Linked DNA regions of Homo sapiens: regions 2 and 3 are each linked to region 1. The links come from fine-mapping of genetic effects on gene expression. A gene starts in region 1. Each other region holds a variant in brackets. All regions are shown on one strand. Distances are between the middles of the regions. Region 1 holds the start of HSPG2 (heparan sulfate proteoglycan 2). Region 2 overlaps CELA3A (chymotrypsin like elastase 3A). Region 3 overlaps LDLRAD2 (low density lipoprotein receptor class A domain containing 2).

Evidence for each region. PIP is the estimated chance that this variant, and not a neighbour inherited with it, causes the effect. A credible set is the group of variants that fine-mapping cannot tell apart.
Region 2: its variant is the best candidate, but not a certain one, in a credible set for the expression of HSPG2 in whole blood (INTERVAL, PIP 0.51).
Region 3: its variant is the best candidate, but not a certain one, in a credible set for the expression of HSPG2 in whole blood (INTERVAL, PIP 0.63).

Annotation. Positions count from the first base shown.
Region 1 is chr1:21,933,040-21,942,218 of GRCh38, reverse strand. HSPG2 (heparan sulfate proteoglycan 2) reads left to right here and starts at 4,909. Exons shown (of 97, transcript NM_005529.7): 1 at 4,909-5,064. The coding sequence starts at 5,002. RefSeq lists a silencer at 4,521-4,870 and an enhancer at 5,618-6,459.
Region 2 is chr1:22,011,328-22,022,029 of GRCh38, reverse strand. CELA3A (chymotrypsin like elastase 3A) reads right to left here. Exons shown (of 8, transcript NM_005747.5): 8 at 9,488-9,580. The coding sequence ends at 9,563. Among named protein-coding and RNA genes, the nearest start is that of LINC00339, 8.5 kb to the left of the region's middle. RefSeq lists a silencer at 2,725-2,784 and an enhancer at 2,985-3,074. The variant G/A (reference allele first, on the strand shown) is at 7,545.
Region 3 is chr1:21,824,562-21,832,670 of GRCh38, reverse strand. LDLRAD2 (low density lipoprotein receptor class A domain containing 2) reads right to left here. Exons shown (of 5, transcript NM_001013693.3): 5 at 7,446-8,109. It overlaps HSPG2 (heparan sulfate proteoglycan 2), which reads left to right. Exons shown (of 97, transcript NM_005529.7): 81 at 65-176; 82 at 875-1,019; 83 at 1,109-1,208; 84 at 1,347-1,456; 85 at 1,581-1,689; 86 at 2,580-2,678; 87 at 3,067-3,288; 88 at 3,592-3,836; 89 at 4,245-4,416; 90 at 4,519-4,641; 91 at 4,752-4,808; 92 at 7,892-7,967; 93 at 8,056-8,109. Among named protein-coding and RNA genes, the nearest start is that of LDLRAD2, 16 kb to the right of the region's middle. The variant C/T (reference allele first, on the strand shown) is at 4,177.

The DNA of each region.
Region 1 (9,179 bases):
GCAATTGATAATGATGAAGGGTAGTGGGGAAACATCAAGTTGGGGCAGGGGGTCAAATACAAGAGCTTTCAGAAGATTCACGCTTCTGCCTGAGCTGGGAGAAGCGCACTTGTGCCTGGCCAGAGTTGAGAACAGCCCACAGGGAGGCAGAATGGGTGTGGTTGAGAATGGGAGTTTGTAGAATCAGACCGACATGGACATGAATCCTGGTTCTACCTCTTACTGACTGCATGACCTGGGCAAGCCACTTCATCCCCTGGGCCTCAGTTTTCCCAGCTGGAAAGGGAGGGGAATAATAAAATGTACTGCCTTGCCTGCTCCCCAGGGTTTATCTTTGTTCCAAGCACAAACCAGAACAGGGACATTTACACTGTGTGCCACGTTTGAACTAATGTCTTGTTCTTTCATTTAAGTAACAATTATCCAAATGCCAACTCTGTGCCACACACTGTGCTCTTCACAGGGGATATAATTGGGACCAAGACAGAAACAAGACCTTCATGCCCTCTGCCTTCATTATGCCTCATAATATTAAATGATCTTCCAAATAATTACAATGGTCAAAAATGCTACAAGAAAAGCATGGCGGGGGGGGCGCTGTGGGAAAGTGTGGTGGGGAACACGACCTCGCTTGGGAGGTCAGAGAAGATTTCTGTGGTCATGTGATGTTTGGACTCAATCTTAAGGGAGAGTAGAGTGAAGGGGGATGGGTGTTAACTGGGAAAAGCACTTAGGAGAGGGAACAGCATCTGCAAAGACTATGGTGGGGAAGGGCTGTGGCTGGATTGATGGGCAGGACTAGATCATGCCAGGCCTTGTGGGGTCCCCGCCCTCTCCATGGGAACTTTTGCTGCCTGCTTAGACCCACCTCCTGCCTCCTCTTCCTCCTCTTCTTCAGTACTATCTTCTTGTTTTTTCTCCTCCATCTCAATTCTCTTTCACACCAATTTCTGACTCTTCATTTTCACCCAAGGACATATTGTTACTCTATTAGCATTTGTTTTCCCACATGGACATAGAAACTCTCGTGGGCAGTGTTTAGTTTCACTATTGAATGAATATAGGGCCACAGCTAGCCTTACAGTGCCTTCACTCATATCAGCAAAAAGTACCCATTCTGGGCCGGGTGCAGTGGCTCACGCCTGTAATCCCAGCACTTTGGGAGGCCGAGACGGGTGGATCACTTGAGGTCAGGAGTTCGAGACCAGCCTGGCCAACATGATGAAACCCTGTCTCTACTAAAAATACAAAAAATTAGCCAGGTGTGGTGGCATGTGCCTGTAATCCCAGCTACTTGGGAGGCTGAGGCAGGAGAATCGCTTGAACCCAGGAGGCAGAGGTTGCAGTGAGTTGAGATCGTGCCACTGCACTCCAACCTGGGCAACAGAGCAAGATTCTGTCTCAAAAAGAAAAAAAAAAGTACCCATTCTGGGCAGATGTAGCCCCACAACAGGGCCCATTACAGTTCCTATTTACCCACTTGGCTGCACACCTTTGTTCAGTGAACAACCTGCGCAACTGTCCACTGCAGCCCTGAATGAATGAATGAATGGACAAAGGAATGTGATTAAGATGAATGATAAGCTCTCAGGCAGAGAAAAGATTTGGAATGGGAGTGGAAGCCAGAAGATGAGTCCTACTGAATTTGGAGGAGTGGACAGGTAAGCCACAAACTCCAGCTGCTGGTTCCAGAACCCCCAACACCTATTCTCAGAAGTCAAGCTGTTTGACTATTTCTGCCTATCCAAGCTGTTGTAGTCTCTCCGTGCCCAGGGAACCTTGTATGAGACTTGAGTTGTTTCTCTCCTCGAGTGTGACCAGCACCCTGAACTCTGTGTACATACAGTGAGATTATGGGCGCCTCCAAGGTTTTGCCAAGCCCAGAAGGCCTTGTGCCTGCTCCTCTTCTTAGCCATATGAGGAGATAGCCAGGCTCTAGACAAAGCAACTTGAGAGCATTTGCTAAAGATATCAAGGACTGCAAACTAAAACAGACCCAGGCAAATCCCTTAGTGGGAAGGAGAGGACACAGAATAAATAGGTGGATGACCAATCCTCCGCTGCTGGAGCCGCCCTGGAAGACTTTCTCAACATGCCATATATTCCTGCTTTCTGCGTGTCAGCCCAGCTCCTTCCAGTCCCTAGTCGGCCTTACCATCTCTTTCCTCAACCCCTTTGAGGAAGGAAGACTTATAGCTCTGGGTTAGTCTTGACCAAACATCTACAAAGGGTTGCTTGTTTCCCTTTTTTTCCCCCTTTGCTCATGAGCAAATCATCCAAGAAGCCAAAGCTCTGGTACTTAAAGGGCCCGAGGTAGGGAACAGACACTGAGGCAGCTCATGAAATGCGATTTGTCACGGATGCTGACAAATCCATGGACAGGCAAGGCCTTGGAAAAATCCTGCCACTAGGGCTGGCCACCTGCCAGCTCTGAAGTCAGTGGAGTTTTGAAGCCTTTCTCATCGGACAGGGAGTTTCCAAGTGCAAACCTGGTGTACTCTCCCCTCAAATGGGAGGTCCCTGGGGTGGCTGTGGAGGCTGCTCCTCTATCAGACCTCAGCTCCCCAAGGGCCAAGTCATGTCTCTCTCTTTAGATTGGGAGCACACCAGAAATAGTAATAAGAGAAATGGCTACCACTTATTTCATGCTTACCAAGTGTCTGAAATGGCTGTGTTTTTTAAAAGAAATATATTAATTTATCTTAATTCTCATAACAACACTAAGAGAGACGTCTTAACGTTATTCTCATTTTCTACATGCAGAGACTGAGACATGGAAGTTGAATCATGTGCTCAAGATTGCACGGCTAGGTGGTGGAGGCAGGATTCTCTATCAGACTGAGAACAATACCCGGACAGGGACTATTCTTCCCCACACCTCTATCAGATTAAGAGTTTACTGAGGGCCAAGATTGGGCGTCCCTCCTCTGTCCACCCCTATCTCCCTGTGCGGATCAGAGATAGACCTTATTCAGTGCTGTGCCTGGAGCCTGGGTTGGGGCCAGGCAGTTGGCCTGACTACCGTGGATGCAATTTCTGTTCTTTACAACTCTGAGCTGGTCCCACAGAAATATGCCCCACAGGGCATATTTTGGAGATATCTTTTGGAGATAGGGGATCTATCTGGGATGGGGGTCAGGATGCCAGTGTTTTTTCAATCCCCCAGATGCCTGGATGAGAGGCCCCAATGTGCTTGGGAGCCTGCGGACCCCTATCACAGGGAACATAGCTTCCGGAGCCAGGCCTGGTGCCGCCCAGTGAGCTGGGCATTTCCTTCTGTCCACAGCTCACCTCACTCCTGGCTGCAAACCCAGCCATGAGTTTCTGGAACCTAGCAACTCTCACAGGAAACAATGGAAACTTCAGTTTTATTCTCCTCCTCTATCATTACTCAAAAGGTTTTCCTCAAAGCTACACACACATAGTTTTCCTCTCCACCCATCAGCCTCGGGCTGCCCTGGAAATTTCAGGCAGAAGAGGGGAGCTGAAGAGTAGGCAGTGAATAGGTCTGGGGGCTTGGTGCTGTTTGCTGCCTGCGGTTGGGTCAGAGACAGATCATGGGGCTGTGATTTTACCACCCACCCGAGCATCTGTGATGGGGCTTTGGCAGGGTCTGTCTGTCTGGGCCTGAGTGTGTGAGTTGGTGTGGTTCTGGCTCTGGGGCTGTGATTTATGTGACTCAAAGTTGGTGTGTGAGTGATTTACATGGAAAATGGTGCAGGTGGGGTGGGCAGCTCAGTTCAGTACCCAGTGCCCACTATGAGGCACTGTGATTAGTGGGTGAGAACAGGTAAAAGATACAGGCTGAGGCTGGGTGCGGTGGCTCAATGCCTGTAATCCCATCACTTTGGGAGGGCAAGGCGGGCAGATCACAAGGTCAGGAGTTCGAGACCAGCCTGGCCAACATGGTAAAAACCCCATCTCTATTAAAAATACAAAAATTAGCCAGGCGTGGTGGCACGCCTGTAATCCCAGCTATTCAGGAGGCTGAGGCCGGAGAATTGCTTGAACCCGGAGGCGGAGGTTGCAGTGAGCCAAGATCCCACCACCGCACTCCAGCCTGGGGACAGAGCGAGACTCCTTCTCAAAAAAAAAAAAAAAAAAAAAAACAAGCTGGTAAGCATGTAGGCAATGATGTGGGCCTGTGTGTGAAATGTGCGTGCCTGCGAGGAATCTATGTGAAAAGGCGTCCTCCCGCTCCGTGACTTGTTGGGATGTATGCGTGAGTGAGGGGCTGAGTGTGGTGTGAGGGCTGTCTCCTGTGTCCCTGGTGGAGGTGAGAGTTTGGAAGCGAGTTAAGTGTGCATGTGAGCCGGTGAGGATTGTTGGTACTTCAGAGTTGGGTCCAGAGTGTGAAAGTGTTCCCGGGTAGCGCACAAGTGTGTTCGTGCAGTAAAGTTATGGTGTGAAGGTGTTCTTGGGTGTGGAAGTTGGCGTGCACGTGTGGCGCGGAGCGGCAGCTGCGTGCGTGTGAGCGTGGGAAGGAGATCCCGGGATCTTCAAAAGCTGCGCGAGTGGAGTCGGCCGTGCGGGGCGTGCAGGGGCGTGGAAGTCGGCGGCGCGCGCGGGGAAGCGGGGGAGCCGGGGATCGGGGAGGCGAGAGCGCCTGGCCCGGCGGCCCCATCCCATGCCCGGGCCCGGGCCCCCGGTCCCCCGCCCCGTCCCATCCCATACTCCAGGCCGGGTTTGGCGGGGAGCCGGGCCGGGCCGCGGCCCGCGCGGAGGGGGCTGGGGGCCCAGACAAAGGCCTAGTAGGCTGCGCGGCCGGCTGGGGCGAGCAGAGCCCGCGGCCCGGGGGCGGTCCGTGGGCGGGGCCTGGCGCTCCGGGGAGGGGCGGTTCGGGGGCGGGGCCGGCGCTGCGGGGGCGGGGCGGGCGGGGAGGAAAGGGGGCGGTGGGGAGAGGGCCGCGCTGTCCCGAGCTGGCCGGCGAGCGGGCGGCTGCGGGCGGCGCGGAGCGGGCGGCGCGGAGCGAGCGAGCGAGAGAGCGGCGCGGGCCGGGCCATGGGGTGGCGGGCGGCGGGCGCGCTGCTGCTGGCGCTGCTGCTGCACGGGCGGCTGCTGGCGGTGAGTGTGCGGGGCAGAGGGGCGGGGGGCGGGGGCGGAGGGGCTAGGGGCGCCCCGGTCCCGCTCGCCGCCTCCCGCCAACTTGGCTGGGGCGCCCAAGGCTGCGCGGCGGGGACTCTGGCCCGGGACGGCGGCGCCCGCCGGGGACCCCGGGCCGGCGCCACCCTGCGGCATGGGGCTAATCCAGGGGGGCCACCAGTCAGGACCCTTCGTGGGGCTGGGGGCGGGGCTGGCCCGTGTGGGAGCCCGTGGGTCTCTCGGCCACGTTGCCGAGTGCTGGAGTCTCGCTGGGCATGGTCCGGCCTACCATTCCTGGGGACCAGGAGGGGAAACTTTGAGCAGGGTGGGAACTTGGCAGGACGAGGGAACCCTTCTGCGCCAGCTTGGCAGAACGGCCACTCAGTGGTGATGGGGACCCTATGAGTCTCGCTGAAACTTTACCACACCGTCTATCACCTTGGGGAGCTTGGACCCAGGTAGGCACAAGCAAAACTTTTGGGACAGAACTGAAGCTTGTGTGGAACACCCACGGGCCTTGGAGTCATACAGCCGAAGAGTTGAATCAATCCCTGCCTTTCACTGAGTAACTGTGTGACCTGGGGCACGCTAGTTAACCTCTCTGAGGCCAGCCCCACGTGGGTCAAGGGAACTCAAAATGCACGGCCTCAAAATGCATAGCTGCAGGGCGTTGCTGGACTGCGTGGAATGAGCTGCAAAGTGCGTGGTGCGGGGATGCAGTGCACCCTTGGGGGACCCGAGTTCCCCAGCTTTCCTCTTCCCAGGTCTCCAAGAGGCAGGGAGAGGCCTGCCCTTGCAGTCTAGTCCCCTACTCTGAGCTTAGGTGGAGGAAAAGGGAATTCTACGGTCAGGAATCCCGAGGCTTAGAAGGCACTTGGCCAGCAGAGGCCCTGAGGACCTGAGTGAACTTGAGGAGGACTGGGTGGGGTCGGTGGGCAGGGAGCTAGTGGCAGATGTGGGTGGGGGCACATCTGGGGAGCCGAGCCTACCGTGGGGAGCCACAGAGCCACCCCCACTCTCTCCGAGGTGCTCCTAGGCAGTCCCCATACCTGCCTCCCTGTTCTCTGAGCCAAGAGAGGGACTTTTCTAACCAGGCTGGTGTTTACCCAGGAACTGCCTGCCTGGCCTCACCTTCCTGGCTTCATCGCACCTCTACCCTCCTGAGTCACTCGTCAAGCCCCCACCCAGACCTGGCTCCTCACTGCTCTTGCCCCACCCACCCAGCACTTCTCCTCCCCCATCCCCACTCTGGGCAGCCTCCTCTGTCGTCCTCCTGTTTCAGCCTCTCACCCCAAAATATTCAGCAGGGCCATCCAGTAGCTCCCTAGTCTTGACCTGAACTTGCACTCCTGGCACTGACTTTTACTTTTCCCAACGCACCAACCTAGCACGTGGGATGTTTTCCGAGGCCCAACAGTCTTTCCTGACCTTCCCCCAGCTCTGCCCCCGATGAGGGGCTCCTCCATGCCCGGGTGCGGTAGGATGGCGGTGGGTGGAGTTGTTTGCTGTGTGCATGAGGAATTTCCACAGACATTCCTGGACCGTGGCAGATCATCTCATTCACTTGTTCATTCAACAGATCATCACTGAGCGACATTCCATGGCAGTCACTGGGAGTACAGAGGTTCATTCTTTGGGCAGATATTTGCCATGCACCTACTGTGTGCCAGTGAACCAGTGAACCTCGTGTGGTGCTAGGGGCTGGGGTGGGTTGGACCAGCAAGGACAGGCCCTGTCTGTGCCTTCCCAGCACTCACAGGCTGGTGGGCGGTAATTTAGACAAATAAACAGGCAGCTCCAATCCTGTGGGATTAGAGAGCCTTCTCAGCAACACATGGAGGGTCGCTGTCCCACCCCAGGCTGCTGGTGGTGGGCTGGAAAGAGCTTGGCCCCTGAAGTCTCTTTATAAAATTCTTTTTAAAAAGTTTTTCAGGCCAGGCGCGGTGGCTCATGCCTGTAATCCCAGCACTTTGGGAGGCCACGGTGGGCGGATCACGAGGTCAGGAGTTTGAGACCAGCCTGGCCAACATAGTGAAACCCCATCTGTACTGAAAATACAAAAATTAGACGGGTGTGGTGGCGCATGCTTGTAATCCCAACTACTCGGGAGGCTGAGGCAGGAGAATCGCTTGAACCCAGGAGGCGGAGGTTGCAGTGAGCTGAGACCACACCATTGCACTCCAGCCTGGGTGACAGAGTGAGACTCCGCCTCAAAACAAACAAACAATAAAAAGTTTTTCGGGGCCAGGCGCGGTGGCACACGCCAGTAATCCCAGGACTTTGGGAGGCCGAGGCGAGCGGATCATGAGGTCAGGAGTTCAAGATCAGCCTGGCCAGCATAGTGAAACCCTGTCTCTACTAAAAATGCAAAAAGTTAGCCAGGCATGGTGGCACGTACCTGTAGTCCCAGCTACTCCGGAGGCTGAGGCAGGAGAATGGCGTTAACCCGGGAGGCGGAGCTTGCAGTGAGCCGAGATCGCGCCACTGCACTCCAGCCTGGGCGACAGAGCAAGACTCTGTCTCAAAAAAAAAAAAAGAGGGCATCACACTTTGTTGCCCAGGCTGGTCTCAAACTCCTGGCCTCAAGCGATCCTCTCGCCTCGGTCTCCTAAAGTGTTGGGATGACAGGCATAAGCCATCATGCCTGGCCTGTCTCTGAAGTCTTACAGACCCAAGTATGAGTCTCTGGGCTGCGGTTTCTGGCTGTGTGATCTGGGGCGAGTTCCTCTCTCTGAGCCTTAGTTTCCAAATCTGTACAATGGGGTTGAGGAGTTTGTTGCAAGTCAAAAATGAGATCAATTCCTAGCCCAGGCTCCCAGCACACCTTGGACCCTCTTTGCCTGCTACCCTTGCTCTCATCTGCCCTTCAGTTTGGTCCGGAGCCAGTGGCTTATGGGGAAGGGTTGGGCACAGCAGCAGGGTGAGATGGGCCTTAGGGAGCTCCAGGCTTCCCCGGGACGGGGGACAGGACCACAGGAAGCTGATCTGTGATTAAGTGTGGGTGTAATTTCAGCTGTTGGGAGGTGAGGAGGCTTGCTGGAGGAGGGGGCTGGGCCTGGGTGACTCGGCAGGCCTTGGCCTGCTGACCCCTTTAGGGCGGCCCTGCAGGGGACAGGCGTCTTGAGGGAGCCTCGGTGGTGATTAAGGTGTTTTCCAGGGCCTAGGAGGGAAGTCGCTGAGATACCTGTTTCCTGCCTCAGCTGGATTTCCTCACTGGGGAGGCTGCCAGCTGAACTGCAGGAGCCTCCCCTTCCTGGCGGTCCCTCAGCCCTCCTCCACGCAGCCAGCTGCTCTGTCACCTGACACTAGCCTACTTGTTCCGTACCTGCAGCCGGCACAGGATGGGGTTTTGAGTGTGCCCTGGACATTCCCGGAGGGAAGGAGGGCAGGCTGCAGGTCTGTCTGCAGGGTAGAAGCTGGAAGGGGCAGAGATGGACCACCCCCCCATCCCTTAGGCCCATTTCCCCCTGTCTGGGGAGTTGTGGCCCCTGCCTGGCTTGGCCCGGGCCTGCTCTCAGGCTGAGCGCAGACAAGTTAGGATCTGTGGGTCTGAAGCCCTGCCCGGGAGACGGTGGAAAGAAGGTGGCAGGAGGTGACTGGGTTCAGGGCCCGGAAGACGGGTGAGCAAAGTGGAGGGGAAGGAGCTCTTGGGGTGCCAGGCTGGATGATGACACAGTAATACGGGTACTTCAGACTTACCCAGTACCCACTGTCTGCTCTGAGTTTCTCAGTGAATCCTCCCATTCACCTGTGTTTCCTGCTCACCACCTCCCTGCGGTGCTCAGAATTAGGTCCCAGCCCCTGACTTAATATAGCCTACGAGGCCCTGCAACACCCGGCCTCCTGCCACCTGCTCCTCTCAAACTCCTCCAGCTATACCAGTCTTTGTTTCTTTTTCTTTTCTTTTTTTTTTTTTTGAGACAGGGTCTCACACTGTCACCCAGGCTGGAGTGCAGTGGCACAATCACAGCTCACCGCTGCCTCAACCTCCCACGCTCAGGTGATCCTCCCACCTCAGCCCCCTGAGTAGCTGGGACTACAGACACCCTCCTCTACACCTGGCTAATTTTTGTATTTTTTATAGAGACAGGGTTTTG
Region 2 (10,702 bases), 79 kb before region 1:
CACTGCACTCCAGCCTGGGCGGATAGAACAAAACTCAGTCTCAAAAAAAAAAAAAAAAAAGGTCTGGGCATGGTGGCTTACGCCTGTAATCCCAGTACTTTGGAAGGCTGAGGCGGGTGGATCACCTGAGGTCAGGAGTTCAAGACCAGCCTAAGCAACATGGTGAAAACCCATCTCTACTAAGAATAGAAAATTAGCTGGGTGTGGTGGTGCATGCCTGTGACCCCAGCCACTTGGGAGGCTGAAGCAGAAGAATTGCTTGAACCGGGGAGGCAGAGATTGCAGTGAGCCAAGATTGTACCACTGCACTCCAGCCTGGGCAACAGAGTGAGACTCCATCTCAAAAGCAAAAAAAGAAAAGAGAAAGCCTGAATTTTATGACAAATCCAATCTGAAAAAGACCACTAGGGATGTAGCTGTAGTTTAACAAAATTAGGCTTATTAACTTGATGTAGCAAGAGAGACAACACACCAGAGAAACTGTGGAGGGTCTCACCAAACAAAAGAAGAAATGGGATTATCATAGGATTTGGAGGAGGTTGGAGTTTAGGTGAAATTGAAATGAAGCCGTGTTGATAGGTGCAAAGCAAAGCTGGCAATGTGTAAAGGGGTTAACATCTGGCGTGGGCTGAGAATCAGACTCAGAGTCTTGTTTCCTTGGACACCACAAAGGTAAGACAAATATAGACTATTGTGTCCAAAAACCCTTTATCTGAAGCTCTGCATCTGGGTAGATACAGGCTATGTCTCTGTATCAAACCTGGCTCTTCTGACCCACTAGAGAAGCGTGGGATGTTCTGCTCTCACTGATGTGATTTCAAACAGCAAAGTTTCTGACAGTCTCTGATTTTAGAGAATGAGATTCCTTTTTTTTTTTTTTTTTTTTTTTTTTTTAGGTGGAGTTTCACTCTTGTCGCCCAGGCTGGAGTGCAATGGTGCGATCTCGGCTTACTGCAACCTCCGTCTTCTGGGTTCAAGCAATTATCCTGCCTCAGCCTCCTGAGTAGCTGGGATTACAGGTGCCCGCCACCACACCCAGCAAATTTTTGTATTTTAGTAGAGATGAGGTTTCACCATGTTGGCCAGGCAGAGAACAAGATTTCTCAGCACTGTCTTTTTTTTTTTTTTTCTTTGAGACAGTCTCGCTCTTTGGCCCAGGCTGGAGTGCAGTGGCGTGATTTTGACTCACTGCAACCTCTACCTTCCTAGTTCAAGCAATTCTCCTGCCTCAGCCTCCAGAGTAGCAGGGATTACAGGCATCCACCACCACGCCCAGCTAATTCAGCCTCCCAAAGTGCTGGGATAGCACTACGTCTTTGATGTTAATTGACAAAAGAAAGTTTGACAGATTCACCTTTTTTTTTTTTTTTTTTTTTTTTGAGACGGAGTTTTGCTCTTGTTGCCCAGGCTGGAGTGCAATGGTGTGATCTCGGCTCACTGCAACCTCCACCTCCCAGGTTCAAGTGATTCTCCTGCGTCAGCCTCCCTAGTAGCTGGGATTACAGGCATTTGCCACCACGCCCAGCTAATTTTGTATTTTTAGTAGAGATGGGGTTTCTCTATGTTGGTCAGGCTGGTCTCAAACTCCCGACCTCAGGTGACCTGCCCACCTCGGCCTCCCAAAGTGCTGGGATTACAGGCATGAGCCACTGCGCCCGGCCTCACCTTTTTTTTTTTTTTTTTTTTTGACAGAGAGTCTTGCTCTGTGTCCCAGGCTGGAGTGCAGTGGCATGATCTTGGCTCACTGCAACCTCCACCTCTCAGGTTCAAGCAATTCTCCTGCCTCAACCTCCTGAGTAACTGAGACTACAGGTAAGTGCCACTACACCCAGCTAATTTTTAAATTTTTAGTAGAGACAGGGTTTCACCCTGTTGGCCAGGCTGGTCTTGAACTCCTGACCTCAAGTGATCCACTTGCCTCGGCCTCCCAAAGTGCTAGGATTACAGATGCAAGCCATTGCGCCCAGCCCAGATTCACATTTGATCTCAATCATCTGACCTATGTCCAGAATATATAAAGAATTCTACAAACCAGCCAGGCGGGGTGGCTCATGCCTGTAATCCCAGCACTTTGGGAGGCTGAGGAGGGCAGATCACAAGGTCAGGTATTCAAGACCAGCCTGGCCAACATGGTGAAACCCCGTCTCTACTAAAAATACAAAAATTAGCCAGGCGTGGTGGTGGGCCTGTAATCCCAGCTACTCAGGAAGCTGAGGCAGGAGAATCGCTTGAACCTGGGAGGTGGAGGTTGCAGTGAGCCAAGATTGCACCACTGCACTCCAGCCTGGGTGACAGAGTGAGACTCCGTCTCAAAAAAAAAAGGAATTGAAGTATTGACATTGTGCCTTCTTGAAAAATGCATTGCTGGCTTTTCATGATTTAGAAATCAAAAGCAAAAAATTATTGGCCTTGACATTCTAATCATTATTCAAAGAATTAAGTTATTGACTATATGGGTTTTAAAAGACTTGAATTGATAAGACTTGGAGATTTGAACAAAGGAAAATTGAATGCTGGCAGTTTTAGGCAAGATTCCCTGACTCTCTGCTGCCCATGTGTGGAGAGAACTGGGTCATCACAGCTCCCAGCCTCCCTCTGAGGATGGGTAGAGGTCCCTTGGGGGCCCGCTGGCCAGCCACATTATGAAATTACATATATCCCACTGCCCTTTACTCTGAAACTATTTTGGAGAATTATCCAAGGGTTCTTCCTGACTCATTGGGAGGAAGTGGACACTCAGCCTTTGCAACCCTACTGTGCCTTGGCAACGCCTGACAGTTACATGTCAGCAGGCACTGTCTGTCTGACTCAATAACAATGATAAATGTGTGTGGTTTCAGAACTTCCTCCCCACCTCCCACCACCCTCATGATGCGGAAGTCTCTGTTCAGCTTGACTCCATTTCTTCCCTGCTCTCACTCTGCCCTTGCCATACCAGTTCTCAGGCTTTGCAAGACCTGGAGCTTGCAGGCAGATCACCTGAGGTCAGGAGTTCAAGACTAGCCTGGAGAACATGGTGAAATCCCGTCTCTACTAAAAATACAAAAAAATTAGCCAGGCATAGTGGCGTGTGCTTGTAATCTCAGCTAGTTGGGAGGCTGAGGCAGGAGAATCACTTGAACCCAGGAGGTGGAGGTTGCAGTGAGCCGTGATTGCGCCACTGCACTCCAGCCTAGGAGACAGAGTGAGACTCCGTCTCAAAAAAAAAAGAGCTGGAGTGAGAGTAAGGATGGGAAGAGAGTTGTAGGGGACGGCTGAGATGCCAGAAGTGGTTTAGGAGAAAAATGGGGCCAGTTTGTAACGTGTAGGGGCAGTGGATGGGAAAAGAAAAAAAAAAGAGAATTTGAAGGAGTATTGTTGATACAATCACTTTGGAGAGCAATTTGGCAATTGGTAAAGTTGAAAATGAGCATGTCCTCCCAGTCAGCATGTCCATTTCTTGGAATATACCCTAGAGAAACTCTCCTACATGTGCACCAGGAGACATGTCCAAGGACATCCACTGAAGCACTGTTCACAATCACAAAAAATTAGCTCTGCTTTAAATATCCATGAGGAAGGAATAAAGAATAATAAAAATTTAGGCAATGGGATATGCTACAAACAGCAGCAACGAACTAGAGATAGACCTCAAAAACACAACATTAAGGCCAGGCGGGGTGGCTCATGCCTATAATCCCAGCACTTTTGGAGGCTGAAGCAGGCAGATCACTTGAGGTCAGGCATTCGAGACCACCCTGGCCAACATGGTGAAACCCCATCTCTACTAAATATATATATATATATATGTGTGTGTGCATATATATATATATATATATATATATATATATATATATATATATTAGCCGGGCATGGTGGTGGGCACCTGTAGTACCAGCTACTCAGGAGGCTGAGCCAGGAGAATCACTGGAACCCGGGAGATGGAAGTTGCAGTGAGCCGAGGTGGCACCACTGCATTCTGGCCTGGGTGACAGAATGAGACTCCATCTCAAAAAAAAAAAAAAAAAAAAAAAAAAAAAAACCCACAACATTGAGTGAAAGAAGCAATTTGCAGGACAGTCCATACAGCATGAAGCTGTGCATGTATTTTTAAAAACCAAAACAATGCAATATATTGGTTTTGGATATTTATATATATGATAAAAACATAACAGCACAGAATAGAAGGACAAACACCAAACTCATATTATCAGTTAGGATAGGTTAGGTCCATGCCTCTGTGATAAATAACACCCAGTCTTAGTGGCTTATAACAGAGTTTATTTCATGGTTGGGCTACATGTCCATCAGGGGTTAGCAGAGCCTCCAGTTCACATCTCACTCTGGGACCAGGCTGACCAGCAACAACCAGATGTCACAGCAGAGAGAACGAGAGCCTGACAAATTGCTTTGTCTCTCAATATTTCACCTTGGCAAGCCTAATGGCCAGACCCAACTTTTTTTTTTTTTTCCCCAGATAGACAGGGTCTCACGGTCACCCAGGTTGGAGTACAGTATGTGAGCACCACTCACTGAAGCCTCAACCTCCCAGGCTGAAACAATTCTCCCACTATAGCCTCCCGAGTAGCTGGGACTACAGTCAGATGCCACCATGCCTAGCTAATTATTTTATTTTATTTTTAGTGGAGACGAAGTCTCATTATGTTGTCCAAGCTGGTATCAAACTCCTGGGCTCAAGCAATCCTCCTGCGTTGGCCTCCAAAGTGTTGGCATTACAGGCATGAGCCATCCCATCCAGCCAAGGTGATAGATGTATTATTATTATTATTTTCTTTAAGACAGAGTCTCCCTCTGTCACTCAGGCTGGAGTGCAGTGGCATTATCACGGCTCACTCAATCCTCAATGTCCTTGGCTCAAGCGATCCTCCTACCCTCAGCCTCACAAGTAGCTGGGACTACAGGCATGTGCCACCATGCCTGGCAAATTTTTTACTTTTTGTAGAGACGGCATCTCTCTATGTTGCCCAGGCTGGCCTTGAACTCCCAGGCTGGTCTTGAACGCCCAGGCTTAAGTGATCCTCCCACCTCGGCCTCCCAAAGTGCTGGGATTATAGGTGTGAGCCACTGTGCCTGGCCCAAACCTAACTTTAAGGGGGCAAGAAAGAGGTATCCTATTATGTGCCCAAAAGCAAAAGCAGTAATTGATGGATAAAAACCCTCTGTCCATCATGGTGATGACTTTTGGGAAGAATACAAAGGTGCTTCCACCTTAACTGTGAAAACTGGAAATAAAATCCTAAGCCCTCTCAACCACTGAATGGGCCTCCTCTTGGCCAAGAGGACCCCAGAGAAATCTTAAAATTTGAGTTCCCAGCCATGACAGGATGGGAGTCAGGCACACCTCATTAGACTTCCTTTTGGTGGTGTAGACACAACTGACCAGCATTAATGTTAAAAATTAGGCCGGGCGCTGTGGCTTATGCCTGTAATTCCAGCACTTTGGGAGGCCAAGGTGGGCGGATCACCTGAGGTCAGCAGTTTGAGACCAACCTGGACAACATGGCAAAACCCAATCTCTGCTAAAAATACAAAAAATTAGCCGGGCATGGTGGCCCATGCCTGTAATCCCAGCTACACAGGAAGCTGAGGCAGGGGAATCACTTGAACCCAGGAGGCAGAGGTTGCAGTGAGCCGAGATCGCGGCATTGCACTCCAGCCTGGGTGACAGAGTGAGACTCCGTCCCCAACCCCCGCAAAAAAAAATTAATGTTAAAATAGAGATCTTACAACTGACAGAACAGATTCTCAGTGGCAGTAAGATACCAAATTATAACAAGAGCTAAGGTCATGCCAGATAAGGGTTAAGACCCCTACACTTAAAAAAATAAGCTATGTTCTAACTGCCACAAGATTTTTCTTTCTTTGTTTCTTTTTTTGGAGACAAGGTCTCAATCTGTCACCCAGGCTGGAGTGGTACAGTGGTGCAATCACAGCTCACTGCAGCCTCAACCTCTCGGGCTCAAGTGATCTTCCCACCTCTGCCTCCCAAGTAGCTGGGACTACAGGCATGTGCCACCCCACCCAGCTAAGATGGGGTTTTGCCATGTTGCCCAGGCTGGTCTCAAACCCCTGGGTTCAAGCAGTCCTCCAGTCCTCCTACCCTAGCCTCCCAAAGTGCTGGGATTATAGTCATGAGCCACCGTTCCCAGCTGCCTGAGATTTTTCCTTTTCTCTAGCAGCTCAACAAGCACTGGCCTTGAGATCAATAATATTAAAACAACTGCAGCTCATCCACCACCAGACCCTAACAGACCCCCTGCTCCTGCTCCAAAGCCATAACTCCAGCTTTGATTGGTAAGGACACAGATTTCAGTAACTTTCTCCTGATAAGAAGACCACAGAGCATGGACTGGTTCTGTCTGGTTTACAGAAGCTGCACTTGAGTACCTTCATGTTCCTGCTTCACCTTTTGATGCACAGGGTCTTGTTTTCATGCTTAAAGAGGTGGGGTCTCACTATGTTGTCCAGGCTGTAGTGCAGTGGCTATTCACAGGTGCGATCATAGTGCACTGCAGCCTTGAACTCCTAGCTTCAAGCTACCCTCCTGTCTCCACCTCCTGAGTAGCGGGGACTATAGGCACATGCCACCATGCCCAGCAGTAATGCATTTAAATGTCAAGTCTCCACCCCACAGTGAACATGGGACACATGTAACATACGTTTGTTCAGTACACATGTGTCAGGACCCCCTTTGTTAATATTTACAGCTCCTTTTTTTTTTGAAACGGAGTTTTGCTCTTGTCACCCAGGCTGGAGTGCAATGGCACGATCTCAGCTCATTGCAACATCTACCTCCCAGGTTCAAGCAATTCTCCTGCCTCAGCCTCCCGAGTAGCTGGGATTACAGGCACCCGCCACCACATCTGCCTAATTTTTGTATTTTTTAGTAGAGACAGGGTTTCACTATGTTGGCCAGGCTGGTCACGATCTCCTGACCTCAAGTGATCCACCCACCTCAGCCTCCCAAAGTGCTGGGATGACAGGCATGAGCCACTGCGCCCAGCCCACAGCTCCTTCTATAACCTGTTGAATATGTATGTTTAGCCAACTCTTTCAGCTTCAAGCTTCCACTCCAATCCCTCCTCCTTTGGAGTGCCTGTTTCTCCTCTTTGCAGGAGGCTACACTTCCCAGCCTGTCAGCATGGCCACCATGCAGGCTGTAACCCTTTATAAGATATAAAATCCCCTTTCCAAATTTATAGACCCTGGCCAGGTACAATGGCTCACGCCTGTAATCCCAGCACTTTGGGAGACCAAGGCGGGTGATCACTTGAGGCCAGGAGTTCGAGACCAGCGTGGGCAACATGGAGAAACCTCATCTCTACTAAAAATACAAAAATTAGCTGAGCGTGGTGGCGTGCGCCTGTAGTCCCAGCTGCTTGGGAGGCTGAGGCAGGAGAATCGCTTGAACCCGGGAGGCAGAGGTTGCAGTGAGCTGAGATTACACCATTATACTCCAGCCTGGGCGACAGAGCGAGACTCCAACTCAAAAACAAAAAAAATAAGCCAGGCATGGTGGTGGGTGACTGTAGTCCCAGCTACTC[G/A]GAAGGCTGAGGCAGGAGAATCGCTTGAACCTGGGAGGCGGAGGTTGCAGCGAGCCAGGATTGTGCCACTGCCCTCCAGCCTGGGTGACAGGCTGGATCTAAAAAATTATAGATCTCTTGATTTTTTTTAGTGAATGATTGTAATTAATATTTTTTAGAATATGAAGCAAAATGTGAAATTTGTTAATTCTGAAGGGAGGATACCTATCTGAGTCTCTGCTATATTATTCTCTATGTTGCATCTTTTTCAGTTGTAGCTGAAAGTATAAAGGGAGGCTACAAATGGGCCATTAATATCAAAGTCATTTGTGTGTGTCCTTGCTGGGACAATCTTCCCTTTCATGGTGTTCAAAGAGAAATATGAGGAAAGAGATTCCGTTGAATTTTTTTTTTTTTTTTTTTTCAGACAGAGTCTTGCTCTGTGCCCAGGCTGGAGTACAGTGTCACAGTCTCAGCTCACTGCAGCTTCTGCCTCCTGGACTCAAGTGATTCTTCCACCTCAGTCTTCCGAGTAGCTGGGACTACAAGTACCCACCACCACACCTGGCTAATTTTTATGTTTTTTGTAGAGATGGGGTTTTACCATGTTTCCCAGGCTGGTCTCAAACTCGTGGGCTCAAGTGATCCACCCACCCTGGCCTCCCAAAGTGCTGGGATTACAAGTATGAACCACCAGGCCCAGCCAGACTCCCTTGTTTTATGTTGCTTTTGTCTGTGTAACAGCATTCTTTTTTTTTTTTAAGAAGGAGTTTCGAACTCGTGACCTCAGTTGATCTACCTGCCTCAGCCTCCCAAAGTGCTAGGATTACAAGCATGAGCTACTGCACCTGGCCAGCGTTCTTCCTTTCAAAACTCAACTGTTTGCTGGCTCTGGGCTCGTGCGCAGCATTGTGTGTACCTGTGTGTGTATACCTGTGTACCTGTGTGTGTGTCTTCTCCCCCCTTCAGTAAGGGCTCTTCCTAGGGTTGCCTGACTTGTCTCTGTTTTTCCAGCCCTGAACTTGCCACAAGGCAGGTACCTAATACATGTTTAATGAATGACCGTGATATGCTCATGACATGGTTAGGCTTTGTGTCCCCACCCAAATCTCACCTTGAATTGTAATCCCCATAATCGCCATGTGTCAAGGGAGAAGGTAATTGAATCATAGGGCGGTTCCCCCATGCTGTTCTCATGATAGTGAGTGAGTTCTCGCCAGATCTGATGGTTTTATAAGGGGCTCTTCCCCCTTTGCTAGGCAATTTTCCTTCCTTCCACCTTGTAAAGAAGGTCCCTTGCTTCCCCTTCATCTTCCACCATGATTTTAAGTTTCCTGAGGCCTCCCCAGCCATGCTGAACTGTGAGTCAATTACACTTCTTTCCTTTATAAACTACCCAGTCTCGGGCAGTTCTTTATAGCAGTATGAACACAGACTAAGAGAGCTATCTTTAAATAATGAGCCACTTCAGGGCAGGAACCATGTCTCCTTACCCCTCTGAGCCCTCCTCTAAAACAAGGAATAAGTGTTTGTTGAATGGACGAATACCAAAGCCCCCAGCCCATCAGTGGAAGCAGAACACACATTGTCCTTCCCACTCTACCATGAGCCTCCTCAAGGGCTGGCAGGGTCTGTTTATCTGCAGAGTTTTACCATGTTTATATGCCTGCATTGAAAAGCTACTGACTTATGTGCGACTATATACTAAGGCGACCAACTTGTCCCATTTTTCCTGGTACCTTCCCAGTTTTAGCATTAAATGTCCAGTGTCTTCACTCCTGAAGTTCCAGGCAAACCAGGATGGTCAGGTCACCGCACAGCAACTCCCTTCTCTCCCAGCATCATTTTTCCCTCATCTTCGTATGAAAGGGTTGGACCTGGTCCTGTCTCTGCATATGAGATCTAAGATTTTAGGAACAGGCCAGAGGGGAAGAGGTGAGTCAACAAAGAAAGAAAGATTCAACTTGGAATTTTCTGAGAGATCTTTATTCTTTATTCAGGATGTGGGATCGATCAGCACTGCCAGCTGGGCCTTGGTTCTAGTGGCTTGCTATGGTCTGGAAAAGTTGGGGGGGCAGACAGAATAGTCAATTTAGGAGCACAGGTTCTGGAGTCAGATGAAACTGGGTTCAACTTCCAGCCCTGCTGTGTGACCCTGGGAGAGGGATTGACCTCTCTGAGCCTCAGTTTCCTCCTCTATGTAGTAGGGATAGAACTTACCTCATGGGGGGGTTCTTGATTAAATTGTTAACTAAGGTTCTCTTTACAATGCCCAGCACAAATTTAGATGGGATGTGTATGTATATATATATGTATATGCATGTGTGTGTATATGTGTGTGTGTATATATATACGTATTTGTGTGTATATATACGTATGTGTTTGTGTATATATATATACGTATGTATGTGTATATATATAAACAAAATCTATATTTTTTTTGTTTTTTTGGTTTTTTTTGAGACAGAGTCTCACTCTGTTGCCCAGGCTGGAGTGCACGATCTCAACTCACTGCAACCTCCACTTCTTGGGTTCATGCCATTCTCCTTCCTCAGCCTCCCAAGTAGCTGGGACTACAGGCGTACGCCACCATGCCTGGCTAATTTTTGTATTTTTAGTACAGATGGGATTTCACCGTGTTAGCCAGGATGGTCTCAATCTCCTGACCTCGTGATCTGCCCACCTCGGCCTCCCAAAGTGGTGGGATTACGGGTGTGAGCCACCACGCCCGGCCTTTTTTTTTTTTTAAGACAGAGTCTTGCTCTGTCACCGAGGCTGGAGGGCAGTGGCACAATCTCAGCTTACTGCAACCTCTGCCTCCTGAGTTCGAGCAATTCTTCTGCCTCAACCTCCCAAGTAGCTGAGATTACAGCGACGCACTACCACGCCTGGCCAATTTTTTTATATTTTTGTAGAGACAGGGTTTCACCATATTGGCCAGGCTGGTCTCGAACTCCTGACCTTGTGATCCACCTGCCTTGGCCTACCAAAGTGCTTGGATTACAGGCATGAGCCACCGTGCCTGGCCTTATATATATATTTTTTTAACATGGGTCAGGGAACCAAGGGATTAAATGGTCTATAAATCATCACTGTTTTTTTGTTTGTTTGTTTGTTTTTGTTTTTGAGATGGAGTCTTGCTCTGTCACCCAGGCTGGAGTGCAGTGGCGTAATCTCGG
Region 3 (8,109 bases), 110 kb after region 1:
GGGTGGGGGAGGACAGGGAGCCTGTGGCTGGAAGGGGGCCCCTTACACAGTGGTGCCCACCCAGGGATGCTGCTGTACAATGGGCAGAAGCGAGTCCCAGGGAGCCCCACCAACCTGGCCAACCGGCAGCCCGACTTCATCTCCTTCGGCCTCGTGGGGGGAAGGCCCGAGTTCCGGTGAGACCCCCAGCCTCCCCACCTACAGGGGGACTGGACACAGGGCTTTGGTCTGGCAAGTGCTACCCTGGGCTCCATTATACAAAGGAGATCTGGAGGAAGGAGAAAATGTGGCCGTTACCCTTGGTGACCACCCAATCTGCTAGAGTAGGAATAGTATGCCAGTCAGGTGGAGGAGGGTGCAACCTCAGACTTGGGACTGCTGCAGGCCAGGATTCATTCATTCATTCATTCATTCATGCATGCATGCATCAGTTATTTGCTGACCACCCCATGTGTGCCAGGCACTGATACAGGTAAAACAAAACAGACCAAATTCTGGCTCTTGTGGGAAGAGGTGTATTCTCACTGGGGAAGAATAAACAAGCCATAAACAGAGAAACAAGGTGATCACAGGGAGAGAGGAGTCCTCAGAGGAACAAGGAGGCCAGGTGCTAGGCTGCAGGGCGCTGAGCCTGGGGTCCCTGTGGGCTGCTCTGGGAAAGCTCCCAGCAAAAGGATGTGGGGAGAGAAGATCCAGGGGATGGGTCACGGGGAGGGACGACAAGACAGGGACAGGAACGGGAACAGCCCCAGGGCTGGGACTGCAGGAAGTGGTGACATCCCTCCTCTGGGACCCCTCTACCCAACTGGGCCCCTAGCCCTTCTTACAAACCCCCTATCCACTCTCTCCTGCCCCGGCCTGCCCCACGGAGCAGGTTCGATGCAGGCTCAGGCATGGCCACCATCCGCCATCCCACACCACTGGCCCTGGGCCATTTCCACACCGTGACCCTGCTGCGCAGCCTCACCCAGGGCTCCCTGATTGTGGGTGACCTGGCCCCGGTCAATGGGACCTCCCAGGTGAGACCCAACCCCATACTGCTACTTCCAGCCCTCATCCCGCCCTTGCCCAGCCTCTGTTGCCATTCCTGACTTCCCCACCTCCCCAGGGCAAGTTCCAGGGCCTGGATCTGAACGAGGAACTCTACCTGGGTGGCTATCCTGACTATGGTGCCATCCCCAAGGCGGGGCTGAGCAGCGGCTTCATAGGTGAGCCCCCTCCCCACCTCCAGCTGAGGCTGGGCCTTACCTGGCTGGCTGGAAGAGCCCTGGAGAGCCTGGGAGGGCACCTCAGGGTATGGGCTGGGACACCCTGCCCTGTGCTCATCCTGCCCACTCACCTCCCAGGCTGTGTCCGGGAGCTGCGCATCCAGGGCGAGGAGATCGTCTTCCATGACCTCAACCTCACGGCGCACGGCATCTCCCACTGCCCCACCTGTCGGGACCGGCCCTGCCAGGTGACCCCACACCCCACACACCACCTGGCTGCCGTGGCCTCCACCCCTAGCCATGGCTGGCCCCTGTGGGGATTATGGGGGGTACTGAATGTTCTCGGCCTTACTTCTGGGGGCTGCTTTGCAGAATGGCGGTCAGTGCCATGACTCTGAGAGCAGCAGCTACGTGTGCGTCTGCCCAGCTGGCTTCACCGGGAGCCGCTGTGAGCACTCGCAGGCCCTGCACTGCCATCCAGGTACGCACCCCGACCGCCAGTCGCTGTCGCCCCAGGGCCTGCCTCTTCCCTTTGCTGCCTCCCCATATCCACCACCATCTCAACCACTGGGGCACTTCCACACCCCCCACTCTCACCTGAGCACTCTCCACTCCTCCCATGTACCCATCCCCCATCTCTGCTACCCGAAGGCCCTCACCCCATCACTGCTGCTTCCCCTCCTCCAGCCCTGCTGACCAAATTCTTACCACTACCCCGCCACCCAGGCACTCCCCCACCCCCAGCCCATCTTTTTTTTTTTTTTTTTTTTTTGAGACGAAGTTTCGCTCTTGTTGCCCAGGCTGGAGTGCAGTGGCACGATCTCAGCTCACTGCAACTTCCACCTCCCGGGTTCAAGCGATTCTCCTGCCTCAGCCTCCTGAGTAGCTGGGAATACAAGTGTCTGCCACCACCCCTGGCTAAATTTTTTGCATTTTTAGTAGAGGCGGGGTTTCACTACGTTGGCCATGGCTGGTCTTGAACTCCTGACCTCAGGTGATCCACCCACCTCGGCCTCCCAAAGTGCTGGGATTACAGGCATGAGCCCCCACGCCCGGCCCCCAGTCCCATCTTATTACCCAGGTGCCCACCCCATTACCCGCCACCAGGTGCTCCCCCTCCAACACTGTCCAGTCTCTGAAGAACCTGCAGACACACAGAGTCCCTCGACTGCTTCCCCTGCAGTCCTCCCTGTGGCCTCTTCTGGCTCCCGCCTTGCTCTGCTCAGTTCCCTCCTCCAAGGCCTCCCAGGAGGCTGGCCTGGCCCTCACTAGCCCAGCCCCCCGGGGTGTGATGGGCAGACCTCTGGCATCAGGACCCCCCTCCCTCCAGAGTCACCTCCGTGTCTTTTCACTGGCCTATGTGCCCCCCAGAGGCCTGTGGGCCCGACGCCACCTGTGTGAACCGGCCTGACGGTCGAGGCTACACCTGCCGCTGCCACCTGGGCCGCTCGGGGTTGCGGTGTGAGGAAGGTGAGGGGAGCCAGGCCTGAGACCCCCAGGGTCCTAGTGTCAGCTGGGGAGGCTGGGTGGGGCACTCTGAGGCCATGATGGGCCCTACGGATGATAAAACGATTCCCAAGCCAGAGGATCTCGAAGTCACCTGGCCACATGTCTGCCCAGCCTGAGCCCCTTATTGAGTGAGGGCCCCCAAAGAGGACCCCTGTCATATTGGAGCTCCTCCCAGCCCCGTGTGCAAGGGCAGGGGGGCTCCTGTGCCACTGCAGCTGGTGCCAACTGGTCCTGAGCCTCTGGGCCTGGAGAGTGAGGCAGGCAAGGGTCCCAGAGGAAGGCAGAGTAGCTGGACCCCACCCGAGGGTCCAGGATCCCCACTGCCTCAGCTGAGCTGTGGCTGCTGCAGGTGTGACAGTGACCACCCCCTCGCTGTCGGGTGCTGGCTCCTACCTGGCACTGCCCGCCCTCACCAACACACACCACGAGCTACGCCTGGACGTGGAGTTCAAGCCACTCGCCCCTGACGGGGTCCTGCTGTTCAGCGGGGGGAAGAGCGGGCCTGTGGAGGACTTCGTGTCCCTGGCGATGGTGGGCGGCCACCTGGAGTTCCGCTATGAGTTGGGGTCAGGTAAGCACCCAGCACCAAATGCGGGGCTCTGCACACCAAGCCTTGTGCCCCCCTCGGCTCTTCAAGCCCCAGGGAGGCATGGGAGGATAAATGCAGGGATCAGGGCAAGTCCCCTCTTCCTGTGCATTTCGTCTCTGTGTCACTTGAGGCCAATCCCTAGCCCTCTCTGAGCCATGGGCTCCTCATCTGGAATACAGAAGGCTGTAGGGCATTCCCCATCTGCTCAGGGCCCTGTTTGTGGTGGAGAGGGCAGGGAGCCCCGTGTGCCCCCATGTGCCCAACCCTGCCTGGCATCCTCCCCAGGGCTGGCCGTTCTGCGGAGCGCCGAGCCGCTGGCCCTGGGCCGCTGGCACCGTGTGTCTGCAGAGCGTCTCAACAAGGACGGCAGCCTGCGGGTGAATGGTGGACGCCCTGTGCTGCGCTCCTCGCCCGGCAAGAGCCAGGGCCTCAACCTGCACACCCTGCTCTACCTGGGGGGTGTGGAGCCTTCCGTGCCACTGTCCCCGGCCACCAACATGAGCGCTCACTTCCGCGGCTGTGTGGGCGAGGTAAGAGCAGCCTCCTCGGGACAAGCGGGAGGGGAGGGGTGCCAAGCCTTGTGTCCCCCTCGGCTCTCCAAGCACCTTGGCATTGGGCCCCTCCACCTGCAGCCACCCACGGGCCCTGGGCCAGGACACTGTACCTCTGAGCCTCAGTTTCCTCCTCTGTAAAATGGGCATGATCACACCTACTTTGAAAGGTTGGGCAGAGGATTGTCTGCACTGACGGATGAATGTTTCTAGCACACAGTAGGCACTCAACTCCTGCGCCTCCCTCCCCACACCGAGAATCCATGCTACCACTCAGGGCCCAATGTGGGCTCCCAGCTCCCCTCTGCTGCATTCTTCT[C/T]CCTGCTGGTACACCTGGGTCTCTGCCTCCCAGGCCCCTTTAGTCCCTCGGTGTCCCTGTCCCCACAGGTGTCAGTGAATGGCAAACGGCTGGACCTCACCTACAGTTTCCTAGGCAGCCAGGGCATCGGGCAATGCTATGATAGCTCCCCATGTGAGCGCCAGCCTTGCCAACATGGTGCCACGTGCATGCCCGCTGGCGAGTATGAGTTCCAGTGCCTGTGTCGAGATGGATTCAAAGGTGGGAAAGCCTGCCCAGGGCACCGGAGGGGAGGGGCACAGGTGGTCAGCGACACCTCCAGCCCATGCCCACCCACCCACTCGCCTCTGCCCTGGCCCACAGGAGACCTGTGTGAGCACGAGGAGAACCCCTGCCAGCTCCGTGAACCCTGTCTGCATGGGGGCACCTGCCAGGGCACCCGCTGCCTCTGCCTCCCTGGCTTCTCTGGCCCACGCTGCCAACAAGGTACCCAGGCCTGGCTTCTCTCCACTTCATCTCTGTCTTGGGGCCCCGGAGCTCGACATAGTACCCACGGGTGTCTATGCCCACCAACTGGACCCTGCCCTTCTCCATAGGCTCTGGACATGGCATAGCAGAGTCCGACTGGCATCTTGAAGGCAGCGGGGGCAATGGTGAGTACTTGCCATGGCCTCCTCCCCAGCTTCAGCTCAGCTCACTCTTCCAGTTACCCCACACCCTCAATTCTGGCCTGCAAGCAAAACAGCTTTATATGAGGAGCTTGCTGGGCAGAGAGACAGAATGAAGACCACAGCCATGTGGAGCTAGGGCCTGCCCCACACTTACTGGCTGGGTGACCTTGGGCAGGCCTTTGAAACCACTCTGACCTCAGTTTCCTCCTCTGTATTCATGTATTCAGTCAACAAACTATTGTTGCCCATCCTTGCCCTGAGAGCAGTAAATATAAGATGCATAAAGCAAGACCCTCATTCCCAAGAATTCCACCGTCTACTGAAAAGCTAAGGAAACAGTGAAGAGTGAATGCTGATTGAATGTTTACGGACACTGTGCTAACCCCTTTACAGACACATCTCTTCTTATGTATCACTAATATAATAGGCGAGGCAGTGGTATAGTGGGTAAGAGTATAGACTTGGAGCCAGCCTGCTTGGGTTCAAATCCTAGCTCTCCCACTTACTAGCTGTGGAACTTTGGGTGAGTCGCTTAACCTCTCTGTGCCTCATATAAAATGGAGATGAGTAACATCTTTCCCTAAAGATTTGGATAAAATTTTATGTGAGAGTAAAATTACTTAGTGCATTTTTTTTTAAGGTGGAGTCTTGCTCTTTCACCCAGGCTGGAGTGCAGTGGCACAATCTCGGCTCACTGCAACCCCCGCCTCCCAGACTCAAGCGATTCTGCTGCCTCAGCTTCCTGAGTAGCTGGGATTACAGGTGCCTGCCACCACACCCCGCTAATTTTTGTATTTTTTGTAGGGATGGGGTTTCACCATGTTGGCCAGGCCTGTCTCTAACTCCTGACCTCAGGTGATCCGCCCCCCTTGGCTTCCTAAAGTGCTGGATTACAGGCGTAAGCCACCGTCCTAAAGTGCTGGATTACAGGCATAAGCCACCGCGCCCGGCCACTTAGTGCATTTTAAATGCCTAGAACAATGTGTGGTACAGAGTCAGTACAGAATGTTAGCTGTTGTTAATATTATGTTCAGCTGGCCGGGCACACTGGCTCACGCCTGTAATCCCAGCACTTTAGGAAGCTGAAGCGGGCAGATCACCTGAGGTTGGGAATTTGAGACCAGCCTGACCAACATGGAGAAACCCCATCTCTACTAAAAATACAAAATTAGCTGGGCGTGGTGGCACATGCCTATAATCCCAGCTACTCCGGAGGCTGAGGCAGGAGAATCGCTTGAACCTGGGAGGTGGAGGTTGCCATGAGCCAAGATTGCATGCACCATTGCACTCCAGCCTGGGCAACAAGAGCGAAACTCCCTCTCAAAAAAAAATACTATATTCAGCTGGGTATGGTGACTCACGCCTATAATCCCAGCACTTTGGGAGGCTGTGGCGGGCAGATTGCTTGAGCCCAGGAGTTCCAGACCAGCCTGGGCAACAAGGCGAAATCCTGTCTCTACAAAAAAATACAAAAAGTAGCTGGGCATGGTGGTGCTCATCTATGGTCCCAGCTACTCAGGAGACAGGCAGGAGGATTGCTTGAGCCCAGGAGTTCAAGATCAACCTGGGCAACACAGGGAGACCTCATCTCTACAAGAAATTTAAGAATTAGCTGGGTGTGGTGGCACATGGCTATGGTCCCAGCTGAGGCAGAAGGATCACTTGAGCCCAGGAGGTCGAGGCTGTAGTGAGCTACAATTGTGTCACTGCACTCTAGCCTGGGCAACAGACTGAGACCCTGTCTCAAAAAAATAAAAAATAAGGCTGGGTGCGGTGGCTCACACCTGTCATCCCAGCACTTTGGGAGGACAAGGTGGGTGGATCACCTGAGATCAGTTCGAGACCAGCCTGGCCAACATGGCGAAACCCCATCTCTACTAAAAATACAAAAATTAGCCAGGTGTGGTGGTGCACACCTGTAGTCCCAGCTACTCGGGAGGCCAAGGCAGGAGAATTGCTTGAACCTGGGAGGTGGGGGTTGTAGTGAACCAAGATTGTGCCACTGCACTCCAGCCTGGGCCACGGAGCGAGACTCCATCTCAAAAATAAATAAATAAAATAAAAATTATCTATATATAATATTCATTCATAGGGTTGTTGTAAGGATTGAGTTAAATGCAGTGGTGTCTGTAGCTGGATGGGACGCTCCCCGCACAGCCACATCATAGGTGTTAGGTAAATGTCAGCCGTTCTCCTCATCATTTGGTGGAGGGTAGCAGAGGGTCCCCTACTCTTGTCCCCTGCCAGAGCTACTGTGGCCAGTGCCGGCCTGTGGGATGGGTCATGAGCAGATAGGGCTGGGGGGGTGTGGAGCCACACACAGTATGGACATCCTGGGCCAGTCACTCGCCCAAGCCTGCCTGCTCTTCTGTAAGATGGAGAGAACACCAAGGCTCTGAACCATTTATTGCCACAGTCCAAGGTGACCAACGGTCCCAGTAGCTCCGGACTGAGGGGTTTCTTGGGATGTGGGACTTTCAGGGCTAAAGCCAGACAGAATTTGGCAAGTAGAATGGCGGGTCACCCGACACGGATCCTGTTGACTACACAAAATAAAATAAAATAAAATACATTGATTTAAGGAAAGCAATTATGCTGAAGTAAAGTAATCAAAACATGTTTTAAGTTTCCTGACTTGCTATATATGTGCTTCTTTATTAACACATCAAATAACAAGATCTGGTGATCTCAGTAGCTACCACAATTTCAAAGCAGCAATATGTGTAAATGATATTTTGAAATATTTGCAGCTACTGTCATGTGATAAGCAAATACTAGTAACAAAGTTGCAGGTCCTACCACTGCTACTTTGGTTTCTTGCCTACATCTCATTGAAAGAACTGCTCAATTTCAGTGAGAAGTGAGTGAAATTGAGGTGTAATGCTTTCCCATCCAAGGTCATAGGCTCCCTGAATTCTGTTGGCAGCCCCCGTGGGTCCCCAGGGACTGCAGGCTCGGAGCCCCCTAGTCCTGCATGTTGGCGTGGAGGTGGGGGTCAGGGGAACTGACGGGGGATTTTGATGCCTGATGCAGCAGGTATGGCACCACCCTCCTCTCTCCCACAGATGCCCCTGGGCAGTACGGAGCCTATTTCCACGATGATGGCTTCCTCGCCTTCCCTGGCCATGTCTTCTCCAGGAGGTGAGACTGGCATTGGAAGGGCCCATGGGCCTAATGGGGAGGATGGGAATCTGGGACTTCTGTCCCCTCACCCGCTCTTCCTCCGCAGCCTGCCCGAGGTGCCCGAGACCATCGAGCTGGAGGTTCGGACCAGCACAGCCAG